Linked DNA regions of Homo sapiens: region 1 is reported to be linked to region 2. The links are microRNA targets in miRTarBase. Many come from high-throughput screens and were not tested one by one. Region 2 holds a microRNA gene; the other region holds the end of a gene's coding sequence.

The links. Region 2 holds the annotated microRNA hsa-miR-802 (CAGUAACAAAGAUUCAUCCUUGU, at 1,429-1,451, opposite strand). A microRNA usually pairs through its seed, bases 2 to 8, with sites in the 3' UTR of a target mRNA and lowers its output. Matches are read on the target gene's strand: a 7mer-m8 pairs with bases 2 to 8, a 7mer-A1 pairs with bases 2 to 7 and ends in A, and an 8mer does both.
Region 1: miRTarBase lists EPC2 as a target of hsa-miR-802. Seed matches in the 3' UTR shown: 7mer-m8 at 3,252-3,258 and 7mer-m8 at 2,336-2,342.

The regions. Positions count from the first base shown.
Region 1 is chr2:148,785,783-148,789,851 of GRCh38, reverse strand. It overlaps EPC2 (enhancer of polycomb 2), which reads right to left. Exons shown (of 14, transcript NM_015630.4): 14 at 2,283-3,547. The coding sequence ends at 3,475. Among named protein-coding and RNA genes, the nearest start is that of KIF5C, 87 kb to the left of the region's middle.
Region 2 is chr21:35,718,113-35,722,182 of GRCh38, reverse strand. MIR802 (microRNA 802) reads right to left here and starts at 1,468; the gene lies at 1,375-1,468.

The DNA.
Region 1 (4,069 bases), not on the chromosome of region 2:
TGGAAAGTGCTAAATCAGCCAAGACCTGGACCAGACCTCGCTCCCATTGCTTTGTGTTGAGAGCTTTAGCACTTACTCACTAGGTCCGGCAGGCAGAAAAGAATATTTGGGTTTCCTCAGTGGATGGCTAGAAGCCACAGTTGGATATAATTCACTTAGTCTCGTGGTGTAATAGTTGGGTGGCTGTCTTCTAAATGAAATTCTAAACTGCTACGGATGCTGCTAACAAGTGGACTGAGAAATAGAATAAATACTTCTTTGAGGAGGGCTTCTTTCATGTTAAAGGTAGAAGGCAGTGTGGTTAGAAGTGTGGTGACTCCAAAGTTTAATTCCTTAGTAACTTAACAGCTATGTGACATAGAGTGAGTTACCTAACTTCTCTAAACTTCATCTTCCTGATCTTTAAAATGGGAAAAATAATATTACTAAACAGAATTGTTGTTAGGAGTAAATGAGTAAGTCATTAAGAGAGAATGTTCCATGCTCCATGATGTTAGCTATTATGATGCTGCTGTCAGTGATGAAAAACATCTCTTATCTTACAGGATGTAATATTCATAATCCCTTCAGATATTCTTACCTTTTAAAATTTGGAAGTTTGCCAAGTCAGTTAAGAGACAATAAAACACATCAGTCACAAGTATATTGTTGATCAACAAAATTTGTTGAAAAGTGTAGCATCATACTCAAATACAGCAGTACATACTAGGGAAGTTTCTGTAATGTTGGTCCTCCTTGTTCTCCCCCTACCTTCCCCCCTAAAACAACCTTAGTAATAAAAAAAAAAACACCTAGCACAGTTGCAAATACATTCCTGTTTTTTAAAAAGCCAGAATATACGTGTGTGTGTGTTATATATATAGTTTTAAAATGTGCCCTATAAATTTTTTAGTTTTTCCCTTGGTCTTTTGCAAAAGAAAACAAATCCTCAAATATACTTAGAGCTACATCATAAAAATGATCTTGAATTATTGGGAAAGGAAGGGCGTGTACTCTCTTTATGAAGGTAGAGAAATAAGAAAAATACAATCAAAAATGTTTTTATCTGTGCTGAATTAAGAATATCCTACCACGTGAGAGTTACCCGTTTTGTTATTTTTTTAAAAAAATTAACCACCTCCACCCATTCCAAAGAAACACATTCTCCAAAGATTCTGAAAGCTTACTGGACTCCGAGTACCAACACTAATTTCCTGAGAAAACTAAGAGAGCAGTGCTGTCCAGTGCAGAAATAGACTATTCTTCAATTTAATAAAGTGAAAACAAATATTTGTCACTTAAGTTTTAGAGAAGCAGTGGAAAATGTGTATGTACATAACTGAAATGCCATCCATGAAACAGTTACAACCAACAAAATAAGGAAGGCTTACGTTTCTATTTTACTTCAAAAGGAACAAATCAATTGGTCATCAGTCTTATAAGTTCTGGATTTGCCACCACCTCCAGAAACCGTACAAATGGATAATTCTTTTGTTTTACTTATTTATAACATATATATCACATAAGGCAAATTCACTTCATGCTTTACTTCAGTAAAATGGGGAAAAAAGCTTTCTCTGCAATTGGCACTAAAGTTGTTTTAAGTTCTTAATAGCAAGGAGATACATCCAACTATAAGCAGAATGAACACAGTCATAATACATATCAAATCAAAATTATTTCCTTTATATAATCAGCAATGAGTAACTCCAGAGGTAGTATGGCAGAAACGAGCATGGATCCTATCAGGTCACAACCAAGACAAAATTAGTATTTTTTCTATGGTTTTGACCATAAATTGCTTTACACATTTAGGACCTGAATAAAAACCACTTTCACCAGAAATCTTGGCCCATTAATTCAACTGACATTTCAATTTACAACTTTCAGGACTGCAGATATAAAAAATGTAAAGTATAAAATTATGTAAGTTTGAAATGGTTTTAATTGTATTCATTAAAAATATTTACATTTCCCAGTACTTACTTGACAAAACCCCCTTGCAATATAATTCTACTCTAAACTTTTATTTATAAAATGAGGCTCACTTATGACATTTCAATGACTGCGATACTGCAAATTACTTACATTCTGTAAAATATCTTACGAACTTTCATATCAAAGGTAGTTTATATTGGATTATCTGAAACCCAATAGAGCCCACAGATGAGCTTCCTATAGTTCTTTTCATTAATGCTTGGAAAGCATGTGAACATGAAAAGTGCTGTTAAGTGCTATCATCTCCCTTAAATTTTCACTTATACTGTGTGCACATTGTGAAATAAACACATATGCAGCATGTCCATGTTTTGATATGTATTTTTTATTTCCCTGCAGTTTTCACTTATCAAGAACAAGTAACAGGGAAAGTTGTCTGAACTAGTGCATAAACAAACATTCTGAAACACCACTACACGTATCTAATTTACAAGAACCGTATAAAAAAAGTCACTAAAACACTACACTATGAAGGTGTCCAACGCTTACAGTCAGACTTTTTCCAACCCGTTACTTGCCTTGTAGCCACAGGAAAACTCTCCAAAATTGAAAAGACAATCTTGCCACAACCCTCCCCCCGCCCAACACCTGGGATGGCTCGATATCTAGACTTCCAATAATTATTGCAATGATATAATGCAATACATACCTGGTAAAGTATCTTTTATGTGATGTGTTACAGTTTTAAAGCCAGTTAAAATATGCAGCCTTCAGATAAAATGTAATCCTCGAAAAATTTTCATATTTGCACAGTTTAAATGTGCTAGATGCATAATTTTTCCTATTCCATTTTTTCTGTGTAATTATTTTTTATAAATTGGTATCATAAATAGAAATATACATTCAAAATATATGGAAAAGTGAGTTACTACATTAAATTTGCATGTATCGATCCATCCCTTTCCCCTGCACAGTAATAGAAAATACTATTTTGCCTTGAACTTCATATTTGACAGTGAAATGCCACTAAAGTATTTACCAAAAAGTCCATCTAGTCAAATTGTGAAACAAAATGAACCAAGTGAAAACTTTACAGTTCCTTTAGAAAAAAATTACAAGAATTTCATTTCCTAGCTATGAATCTTTAACTTTTTAGACACAAAGTTGGATTTATTTTTACAAGATACAAAATGTAAACATGGCAAAATAAATAGTTAAAACAAGTGATGCAGGATCCCATTTCATGCTCATGATCCCATTAAAGAATTATTTTTTAAAATCCATTCAGTTGCAAATTCAAGTGCAAAAGCATGATGATGAATATCTACTATTCAAGTAACAGAAATAATATTGATGATACAAATAAACTATTTTACAAGGTAGTGATTTTCCCAATTTTACAAAATATACATCATATATGGATTTAACATCCAATATACTATAGTCCATTTAGGTCCATTGTTACACTCTGTGATCCACAGAGTGTTGCCTTTTGCATTCAGCTGGAATATGAATGACTGCACACCATCAGCACAGGTCAGAGCCACGTGTTTTAGGTTATGTCACTTCCATAGCTACTGTTGTCTCTGCTATTCCATTTAAGCCCAATCTTTCTGGTTCGTGGTTCTCTCTATGGTAATAAGGCAAAGGATAAAATAAATATCAATACTCTCTAGAACATGACGTTACCATTTAGTATTTTACAAAAACATTGTTACATAATTACAACTAAACATGACTTCACAAGAACAATTCCCATTTTTGCCATTTCTAGATAGGAATGAGAAAAACTTTTCTTCAGCTCAGAAATTCCATTAATTCCTAATTTTTTTATTATGGCTATTTACTTAGGAAAGATAATAATTTAACATGGCATTTCAGTAGAAGCCAATGAGAAATTACTTATGAAATATGTATCACAGGACAAACCAAGTTTTTCTTTTTTTTTTCTCGAGAGATGAAGCATATGACACTCAAAAAGAATAATCATTAGGAGCACAATATTACTGAAATTACTTTCCATTAGAGTTTAATTCTATAGGCTTAAGATCATGTATTTATTAACCTATGCAAATCAATTTTTTTCTGATTCATTGTTCTCCTTGTATTAGTGTCATAGAAAGAAATATAAAAACATTCTAAAATATACTAT
Region 2 (4,070 bases):
GGGAGGAGGATGGATGGAGAACAATCCTGTTCAGAGGAGGGCGACAGGGAGTTGTGGTTCCTGAGGAGGGGCAGGGAGTCAGGGAGGATGCTGGTTCCACCGTGGAAAGCAACAGGGCAGGGAAAGGAGATCCGACCCCCTCTTGAATGAGGCTGGACACTCCTAGCCAGTGTAGCCACAAGGAGAGAGGTGAGAGGAAGCCTGGGGGAAATAACCTGAATATTTGAGGGATGAGCCTAAGAAAAGATATATGAGGTGAGATTTTTAAAGGTGAAGAAAGATCAGAGAGATTATGGACCTAGGATGGCAAATGCAGCAGTACGTGTTTGCTTTCTCCTTGGGCAGAAATAGAAGGAAAAAAATCTCATGGATCCTAGAATAGTATGCATTTGCTAATTAAAGGCAAAAATGGCCTCTGGGAAGGGAACTCTGAAATGCACGGATTGCAAGTGAGATGATGGTGAGGAACTATTAGTATTTAGGAACTCTCTGAAACTTTGAGAGATAAATTGGATTTGTTCAGGTATGGAGGACAGGAGTTTAAAGGTCCAGGGACAAGTGGAATCCATCCAGCCATTTTTGTACAGGAGGAGGAAGAATAAAGAAGTAGGGTCACAAAAATAAATAAGTAGGAGTTCAGAAAGTTAAGGAGGCTGGGTACAGTGGCTCACGCCTGCAACCCCAGCACTTTGGGAGGCCAAGACAGGAGTATTGCTTGAGGCCAGGAGTTCAAGACCAGCCTGGGAAATATAACAAGACCCCATCTCTATTAAAAAAAAAAAAAGTGAAAGAAAAGATCACAATACAGGGAAAAGTGAGCTAAGAATCCCGGCATTAGAGAGCCCTTGATGTGGTCCTGAATCGGCTATTTCTATCTGTTCCCTGAGCCTAACCTCAGCGCTGGCCTCTCTAAACCTCTTTTCAGTCCTCTCATTTTGAAAACAGGGCCCATTACACATTCTCTGAAAGCTTGCTGAGTGATTTAACCACATAGTCTAGGGGAGGCACTCATCAAACATAAGGCCTCTCTTTTTGATTTTTATCCTATAGTGGTATCTATCTAGAGGCTGGTGAAGACAGTGTGGTGGAAGGAAAGTGGGAAGGATACACTGAAATAGGACATAGACGTAGAGGGGAGTCGATGGTCATCTGGCTTGATAGGGAAAGTTAGAGAGCTCTCCTGAACCACAGTTACAGAGCTTGGGATTATAACACACACAGCCCCAGAGAAAACACTTTGTTTACCATATTTCCTCTTCTGCTGGGGCTCTGGCACCTTAATTGGTCAAAAGGCAGCAAAGATCCGCAAAGCCTGTTCTGAATTTATCCAGGTCTATGCATGAACGGCTTCCTTCTCCCACCTTCCTTTGCAAGGTCCAGCTATTAATTACACTAAGTGACAAAGATTCTCCTTGTTGCATGATGGACACAAGGATGAATCTTTGTTACTGACTGCAAATAACAGAACGAGTGGTGACCAAGAGTCAGGCTGGGAATACACGCTTCAAATCACGCAATGGGCATATGGCACTTTCTTCTGAAATGACACAAGAGGCTGCAGAGAAACAGAGTGGGTATTATTTTGTTAACTTCCTCCTATGAAAATAGAGCCTCCGTCCTTTTTTTTGCTGGTTCATTTCTGGCACTGGAACAAACTGTCTCTTTACATTAGTTCAGTTCTGCAGAGAAACGCTCACTTAGAAGGAAATCGTTGGAAAATCCAGGCAAGAATCCATTTTTTAAAGTCACCACTGAATGATTGCTTTCTTATTGTGCTACATAGGGCTGGAAAAATCATTCCTTTTTGTACATATTTTTCTTTTTTACTTTGTGTTTTCATTCTGCTTAAGACACACATATGTGCCAAAAATGAAAACATTTTCAAAGGGCAAGTTTCAAGGACTCCTAAAAATAGGACCAGTTGCCAAATATATATTTCCCCAATATGTAAATGGCTGAAAAGGAGCACAATGAAAAGCATATGCTATTCAAATTTTCTTTAGAAAAACAAGAGCTGGAGGAGCTGACTGAATCTCTTTAAACTAGTGGCTTCCATGTAAATTTTATCTTTAAGTCTTCAGACATCATTCTTTGAATATTTTACATCTATCTTTTAATCAAGACTGAAACAAGCTACTAAGAATAATCTTATTTTCCAAATGGGAAAAAGTCATTTCATCACATCAGCCTGTAACTTGACATGAACCTTGCAAATAAGCATTAAGGCCAAAAAAGGTATAAAACACCCAGAACAGCTAGGCCACTTGTGGCTGCTTCACAGATCTAGGGGCAAATCCATGAGCTGGAAAGTAAAGTCACATTAGTTCGGGTAAGAAGTCTTTTATTTCTTGGCTTCTGCGGCCTGCAATCAGGAATTACCTGAAATTCTTTCTGGAAACAAAAAGGCAGAGCATATATACATTAATTAAAATCAAAGAAGTCAGTGGTGGAAGGGGTTTGCTTAGCATTCTATGGCTGTCACCCAGTATGAATGGATGTTCTCTATTCTTAAGCCTGTGCCTTGTAATTTAGGAAAATTATCATTCTTTGTGAAAAATCCCATTGGTGAGCTAATCTCTTAAATGCCTTCTTTTATTTTCTGAAAACAAAAACAAAAACAAAAACAAAAAACCAAAACTTTTTTGATCAATGAGTCAACATGTTTAATGATTATAAGTTGTCTTGTCAAAGGTTTACAAACCTGCATGGCTGTGTCCTTCTTGGGTGGGCTCCTGTGGGGCTGGAGTCCCCTGAATTCCCTGGAGACCTCCTTTTCCTCCAGCAGGGCTATGGAGACAGTGCTTGGCCAGGAAGTATGGCTGACAGTCTACACTTTTATCCTTGGAATTATCTTGCTTTCCCAGCTCTGGTTAAAATTTTTCTTTCATATCTTAATATTTCCATGATAGACCATGGGGGAGGGAAAAAACCTCAGAAAAGGTTTCACCCTTGCTGTTAAAAAGTTGTGACCTTTGCTCACATTTGCCAGAGAAAGTGGCTTATACCACCAATTAACTTGAATTATTAACTCTTAGATTAATAATTTATTAGAAACCTAAAGGCCTGGGCACTGCCAGATCCAAACGATTTAAAGAAAAACAAAGAAAACAACATAGCTCTGATTATAACAATTTGTAGACAGTGCTTGGAATAAGCAATGGCATTTTGGCTTTCCAAAGGATTTCTTATTTTCCCTCTAATACCATACTGACTGAAGAGTCAAGCAGATTCACTAATAATACCTATAATGACTCATGCAGATGTTGGTTTTAATTTTTTTTTATTTAAGAAATATTCATTGATATGGTTTGTCTGTGTCCCCAACCACATCTCATCTTGAATTGTAGTTCCCATAATCCCCACATGTCATGCATGGGAAGGACCTGGTGGGAGGTAATTGAATCATGGGGGCGGTTATCTCCATGTTGCTGTTCTCGTGATGGTGAGTGAGTTCTCGCGAGATCTGATGGTTTTATAAGGGGCTTTTCCCCCTTTTGCTCTGCACGTCTCTTTGCTACTGCCATTTTAAAAAGGACATGTTTGCTTCTCCTTCCGCCATGATTGTAAGTTTCCTGAGGCCTCCTCAGCCCTGCGGAACTGTGAGTCAATTAAACCTCTTTCCTTTGTAAATTACCCAGTCTCTGGTATGCCCTTATAGCAGCGTGAGAACGGACTAATACATTCATATACCTCTTTCTTTGCGTCAACTTCTATTTGAAACACTTGCATATGTTAATTTATTTAATTAGTGTTCCTAACGACCCTCTGACTTAGACATTTATTGTCATCTACATGTTACAGACAGGGCAAGGAGAAGCCATGCCAGAGTCACACAGATAGATGGTGAGTGGCTGCGTGACCTCGCCAGGGCTGCCCAAAGTAGCACAGACTAGGTGCTTTAAACAACAGAAATTTATTCTCTCACAGCTCTGGAGGCCAGAAGTCCAAGATCAAGGGGTCAGCAGGTGTGGTTCCTGCTGAGGCTGTGAGGGAGGATCTGTTCCTGGCTCTCCCCCAGCTTCTGGGAGTTGCTGCAGTCTTTCGCATTCCTTGGCTTTTAGACACATCAC